Linked DNA regions of Homo sapiens. The protein of the gene in region 2 purifies or fractionates together with the protein of the main gene of each other region. This does not show direct contact. Each region holds a gene or a part of one and is shown on either strand. Other genes may lie near its edges.

What was found. Proteins that work in one complex are often made in the same cells at the same time.
Region 1: the proteins of CCDC85A (region 2) and PIP4K2A purify together in Homo sapiens (affinity purification with mass spectrometry; one large-scale study listed by BioGRID and IntAct). This does not show direct contact.

What each region holds. Positions count from the first base shown.
Region 1 is NC_000010.11:22,606,579-22,610,078, reverse strand, and holds part of PIP4K2A (phosphatidylinositol 5-phosphate 4-kinase type-2 alpha), read left to right. Parts: intron 1-361; coding exon 362-459; intron 460-2,055; coding exon 2,056-2,152; intron 2,153-3,500. UniProt on the Homo sapiens protein: Catalyzes the phosphorylation of phosphatidylinositol 5-phosphate (PtdIns5P) on the fourth hydroxyl of the myo-inositol ring, to form phosphatidylinositol 4,5-bisphosphate (PtdIns(4,5)P2). Has both ATP- and GTP-dependent kinase activities.
Region 2 is NC_000002.12:56,190,490-56,193,989, reverse strand, and holds part of CCDC85A (coiled-coil domain-containing protein 85A), read right to left. Parts: intron 1,514-3,500; coding exon 550-1,513; intron 1-549. UniProt on the Homo sapiens protein: May play a role in cell-cell adhesion and epithelium development through its interaction with proteins of the beta-catenin family.

The sequences.
Region 1 (3,500 bases), on a different chromosome or scaffold from region 2:
ATTTTCTTTACAGAAGGAAGTTGTCCTGGACATGTGACCAAAGGGTCTGTGGGATGAGGTTGTGGAGGGAAGGTAGGGAGAGTGGATGGGCAAGAAGCAGGGACAGGTGGCATGAGGATTGACTCTCCCTCACCACTGCCGTCCGGTGGCCACCATGGACCCAGCATCAGACAGACATAAGAAGTGGGAATGAGGAAGGCAGGAAGAGAGATTATGATGGCAGAGGGAAGGAGGGTGGGTTGGTGGGTGGGAAGAGAAGTTCCTGTGTCCACCATGTTTTTTTTCCCAAGGTACACATTCAAGTCAAGTCCTCCTCACCTGGATAGTAATAACCCATGCTATTTATTTTATATTTTTCCAGATCAATGAACTGAGCCATGTTCAAATCCCTGTTATGTTGATGCCAGATGACTTCAAAGCCTATTCAAAAATAAAGGTGGACAATCACCTTTTTAACAAGTAAGTACAAGTATGACCTTTCATAAGACTAGCGTGGCTGCTAGGAGTACAAGTTTTGTGAATTTTTGTAATCACATAATTTGTCAATGGGTGGGAGTAAAGTTTTGCTGATGAAGTTAATCCTGTGATAAACATAACCATCTGTCATTTTTAGAGAAGCAACAGCAGGCTCTCTGGGATAATATCCTTTGCCATATGGCATATTGTTCTCTATGAATATCTTATACGTTGAAAGTGATATTCTCATTATAATTCAAATTTTTGAAGCTGTAAATTGCTTGGATTTTTGAGCAGTTATGAACCTCTGCTCTTGTACACAGAACTTTGAAAATGATGATTTATGAACAGCAATGACTCCATCTTAGAACAATAAAGACCCAAGGTACATTTTCATAAGGCACAATTAGATGCCATGTTGGGCATTGATAACATTCCTCCTTCATTTGAATGTTGTTTTAGACGTCATTATGAAGCACCTATTATATGTTAGGTGGTCCATTGAGAGCTAGAGATGCAATGATATAGAAGACACGGCCCTGCCCTCAAGGGGCTCAGAGTACAAAAACTGACACATATACAAACTGCTATAGTTCAGTGTGCAAAGTATGATAAGGGAGGGGTGTGTGCATATGTATAATTTAATTTATCTGGTTGTGTGGGAACACAAAGAGGGAAACAATTCTGAATGATTAGGGTGAACCTCAAATCACTCCCATGTGAGGATCATTATGAAATTTTTTTTTGAGACAGGATCTTGCTCTGTTGCTCAGGCTGGTGTGCAGTGGTGAAATTATATCTCACTGCAGTCTCAAATTCCTGGGGTCAAGCAATCCCCCTTCCTGAGCCTTCTGAATAGCTGGGACTACGGGTGCAGGTTACCATGCCCAGCTGATTTTTTAAAAAACTTTTTGTAAAGACAGGGGTCTCACTATGTTCCCCAGGCTGGCCTCAAACTCCTGGCCTCAAGAAATCCTCCCACCTCAGTCTCCCAAAGTGCTGGGATTACAAATGAGTGGTGTAAGCCACCATGCCAGGCCAATTATGAAATTTCTTCAGGGGGCCATTGTCCTTATGTGAAGCTGATGTTAATTTTTCTCATAACAGTGTTTAGAAGCTGACTTTCAGGGAATTTCCTCTAAGCAAATTTAGAATGTGGCATTTATATAAAACAGGCCTTTTAGGGGGGTGAGGGAGTGGCCCTCCTTTCCTCAGCAGTAGCTGAGAGGGAACCTTGCTCCGCTGCCTCTTCCTAACTCACTCTCCCGCCATTGTGCTTTTCCCTCACTGCTCCCCCTGCCTGGCCCGTTCCTTCCCCACCTCTTGTTCTTTGAGGAATGGCTGCAGTGTGTGGCCAGGATTTAAAGAGGTCACATAGTCCAAGCGTGCCTGTGACAAAGGAGACAGACAGACATCCGTCTGGCCCCCTGTGTCTCCTGGATCTTTCTGCGGGTTGTACCTGGTTCTAGGAAGCACACCTGTGCTTTTGGTAGGCAGTGAACTCTGAACCCTTCTTTGGCTACCTGTGGAACTCAGTGGTGGCAGATGCAAGTCTGATTGACTCTCTCTGAGCTTTATTCCACGCTGTGACTGTTTCAGAGAAAACATGCCGAGCCATTTCAAGTTTAAGGAATACTGCCCGATGGTCTTCCGTAACCTGCGGGAGAGGTTTGGAATTGATGATCAAGATTTCCAGGTGAGTTGCGTTTGTAACATTTGCTTCCAGTAGGAAATGGGTTTTGCCATGACTTTTGCTGTGTCAATTGGGATCTGTATTTTTGTCAATAAAAGTATTATATAATAGTAATTTTCATTTTGTGTAAGAAGTTTTTAATGTTCATGCTGAAGTAAAGTGTTCTCTTGATTGGGGACCTCTATACATATGATACCGGTATAAAAGTCAGTAGGAAAATATATTACTTTTCTTTGGAAGGAGACTGAGCATGTGAGGGTTTTATATAATACTCTCATTTCCAGGTGGAAATTAACAGGCTAGCAGAGCTGCCTGTTAATTTCTGCTGTCAGACATGTCAGTAGCCTGTGTGAGTGTGCATGTTTTGTATCTTCGTAGAGGCTACTTAGGACTCTCAGGAATCTTTATCTTGCTGATTTGCTGCTTTTCAAGTTGGTCAGACTCTTGCTGCAGCATTTTTGTCAAAGGGCACCCTTTGTGCACTGCAGTGCTGGACTGTGGAGTGACCATAGCACTGTGGTCAGCACCAGGAACCCAACATCCTGGGCGTGTCCTGTGGTACATCTTCCTCTTCATCTTGATTCCCACCACGTAAAAATGTGCACTGCTGCTCTCCTCCCCACACTGGCCTGGTCCTTCATTCTAACTTTTAAACATCTGTTTTAACTCTTTAAATAACTGTTGAGCCATGATCATTTTTTTCTGAGAAAGGATTTGACATTGGTTACCCAAGTTTCATATAGCGAGCCAGATTCGTAAATGCTAAGGATTTTTTTTAAAAGTGGAAATCCAAGGGACAGGTTGAGTATCCCAATCAGAAAATCTGAAATCCAAAATGCTTCCAAATCGAATATTTTCTGATCATCAACGTGATGCCACAAGTGGAAAATTCCACAGTTAAGTGCTCAACACAGCCTTTGTTTCATGTACACAATTATTTAAAATATTGTATAAAATTACCTTTAGGCTATGTGTATAAGGTGTATATGAAATAGATAAATTTCGTGTTTAGACTTGGGTCCCATCCCCAAGATATCTCATTATCTTTGCAAATATTCTGAAATCTGAAAAAATCTGAAATACGACTGGCTGCAGGCATTTCAAATAAAGGATGCTCAGCATATACTGACTTAAGTCCCTTCAAATCTAGTCCTAATCTGCCCTCAATTTAAGATCTGAATTTATCCTGCATTAAGTGACATATTGCCACCCTGGGTGACTACAGATTGAGTACTGATACAGCTTACCCTGTATTTTCCTCTGAAGAATAGGGTCCCTCAGGCAAACTGAGATAGTTAGCACACTTTCCTAAAGATCTGTGCTCCCACTGCCCTCTCTGTACCATTGCCAA
Region 2 (3,500 bases):
GTAAAGTCAGGCATATTTATAGCCATTTGGGCAGACCAGCATCAAGCCTGTTTAGGAACATCATACTTCTTTTTTAATGTTATTGGTTTTTCATAGAAATATTCATATCTTCTTGTATATAACCTATTAACTGGATTCAAAATCCTTTTGGCAACCATTCCACAAACAAGCTCTGGTAGGAAACAGCACACACCACTAAGAAAATGCTCAGGTTTAAGATGAAAGACTCTTAGAATGGTTCTATTTTTTATCACCAATACCCAAAGATTTCCCTTTGACAACTCAAGGTCCTAAGGAATTACTGTTCCTCTCCCTCCCATAAACCCTCATCCCCAAACTTCTTCACACTGACTGATAACTGTTTAGAATAAAAACAGATGGAGGAGAAGAACCCCATATCATGATTTTGGGTCCAACATTTGCTCCTTCCCCAAACCCACTCCCTAGCTAGCGCCTGCACTTTCTTACATGGCTGGAAAGTCCATCATCATTCGTAACTCTCTACTGAGTTCCCCAGCCCAAGCAGCACCCCAGCACATACTGACCCACCGTTCATGCCACTGTAGACATTCCGGTGATGGGGTGACCCGTCCTCCTGTGCCTGCCGTCTGAGGGTGCCCTCCCTGCTGCCTCCGCCGCTGCCTCCACTTCCTCCACTGCCTCCTCCGTGTTTGTGATCAGGGCTCCCTCCATAATGTTGTTTGAGGTGCTCCGGGCTGGTGCCCCTGGCTCTGGGGAGATGCTCTAGGCTCCCCCCAAGAGCGTGTTTCTGAAGATGCTCCGGGCTCCCTCCACTGTGCCTGGCGTGTTCAGGGCTGCTCCCTGACCGGTGCTTCTGGAAGTGTTCCGGGCTCCCACTCAGCACGTGCTTGGGCAGCGTTTCGGGGCTGCTCCCTGGATGCGGGTGCCTTTGCTGTTCGGGGCTGCCCTTGCACAAGGGTTTGTGGTGCTCCGGGCTAGGTCCTTTGAGTGCTTTGGGGCGATCTGGGGTTCCACAGGCTCTGGGTTTCTGTGGATGCTCGGGGCTGGCGCTCCTGTGCTTGGAGTGCTCCGGGCTGCCCTCGCTCCGGGGCTTCTGCAGGTGCTCCGGGCTGCCACTGCTCGCGTGGTGCTTGTGGTGGTCCGGGCTGTCAGTGCTGCCAGTGCTGGAGGTGCTGCTGCCGTCACCCACATCCCGCACGTAGGGTGCGGTGGAGGCTGTGAGTTGGCACAGGCTGGCCTGGCTGTCGATGGAGCAGCGGCTGCCTGCGCAGCCTGCACCCTTCTCCTCATCTAGTAGCACACAGAGCTCCTTGAGCTCCATGTTCTCCTTCACCACTTCCTCCTGCTTCACCTCCAGGTCTTTCAGCTTCTGCAGGTATAAGGCCACTTCCTTGTGCATCACCCCGGCAGTGTAGCGACCCAGTCTCTGCCACTCCCGAGACACCCTCTTGCCTTTCTGCCGGTCATCATCCAGGAAACAGCAGAGGTCCCTCAGTTCCTGGTTGTCTTCCTGGAGTTTCTGGTTGATATCCTGAAAAGAGAGACACAACCATTCAAGGGAAGTACACATCTGAGGTGTCAGCAGGCTCAGACTTCCTGGAAAGGGAGAGCCTGTAACTGGTGAATTACCTGTGAGGTTAGGGGAGGAGGTGAGGGAGTAGGAGGAAGCTGAAGATTTGTAGCTGTCCATAAAAATTAAACTAACTTAAGTATCAGTTCTATCCCTGCACAATACTTTACTTGCATTATGTCATCTAATTTTTACCCAAACATTTAGGGGATAATAATTAGTATGGCCATAAAAATTAAACTAACTTAAGTATCAGTTCTATCCCTGCACAATACTTTACTTGCATTATGTCATCCAATTTTTACCCAAACATTTAGGGGATAATAATTATTATGGCTCTTATACAGAAGAGGAAATCGGACCTCACAAAGCTTCACTTGTCCAAGTTCATCTGGTCAGTAGTTAGGGAGCAACCAGTTCATTATCAAGAAATCAGTCACTAGATAAAAACAAGGCTCCCCTGCCTCACCCTCAAGAAAGAAAAATAACTGCTTGTGACCTGTGAAATGCTTAAAAGCCCTGAGACAACAGACCTTTCAACAGAGTAAACAGCAAGCACTGCTTAGATCTTCAGCCCTGACATGGAATATGCAGCCCCAATTCCCCTGGTAGGGAAAGGCACAATTGCCCTCTAGTGGCATTTCAGCCCTGCACATCCAACCCCTACTTGCCACACCCACCTGAACATCTCCCAGGCATCTCTCACTTATCTCAAGCAACCTGAGCCTTAAATTAAGAGACCTCTCTCCCCAAACTGCACCTCTCAGCAAATGCCCCCTCTTTCTGTTCCACTGTTCTTTATATGAACCTGGGGTCATCCCTGGCATCTCCTTCTCCTTCAACCTTCCATTTCAAAACCAAACAAGGCTTTGGAGCTCTACTTCCAAAATTTAGCTCATCTTGTCATTCCCATGTTTGAAATCCTTTAATCTCATGGCCCTTAGGATACAATGCAAAATCCTTTAAGTCACACAAGGCTCCAGGTACATTGATTCTGCCTACTTCTCCTGCATGAGTGATGATTCACTTGCTTGTTCACAAATACTCAGTAAACATCTATTACTGTACCAGGTACCAGTCCAGGTGGTAGGGATATATCAGTGGACACAGCAAAGACCCTGACATGGTACAGCTTTTATTGTGGTGGGAAAGACTGGCAAAAAACACGTATAGAGCATAACGTCATGCAGTGAGAAGTTCTGGAAGGAAAATTGAAGCAGGTTAAAGAATACTCTTTTTCAAGAGAAGATACCGCTACAGAGAAGGGAAACATTTGAGCAGGCACCTGGGTGGAATGAAGGAGCCAACATTTGAGTGAAGATGATCCCAGGCAGGGAGAGGGCAAGTAAAAAGCCCTAAGACCAGCATGAGAGCAAGAGCTCAAGTACAGCGAGGTGAGCATGTCTAAAGAACAGAGAGCAAGTCAACGGACATGGGAAAGGGGGTCTGAGAGGCATCAGGGCCTAGAATATGCATGGCATGGTCAGCGACGGGAAAGGCTTTGGGTTGTTAGGGAGCTGAGGATAGAGGAGTGACATTACATGATTCCTTTTGCAAAGAATCTCCATAGTTGTGTGGAAAACAGACTGACTGGGGTAGGGGAGGAAAGAAGGGAGGGTCAGGATAAAGTGGAAGCTGCAAGATTAACAAGTAGGCTCCTGGGCTGGTCCAGGTAGAGGGAGATGATGGTGGCTTGGACGTGTGGTAGCAGTGGAGAAGGTGGGAACACCCCTCCTCATCACACACTGAGGCTGTGTTTCAGGTCCTCAAAGGGCAAGGCCTTTCCCTCTCACCTGGAATGCTCTCCCCAGCCTTCTAGACAACCATCAGGTCTCATTTTATAAGTCACTTCCCCATAGACACCATTCTATAGAAGGTCCACCCCCAATCTATGGTCTACCATCATCCCTCAGACTTACTGCAATTTGTAAGAAGAAATGTGTGAGTA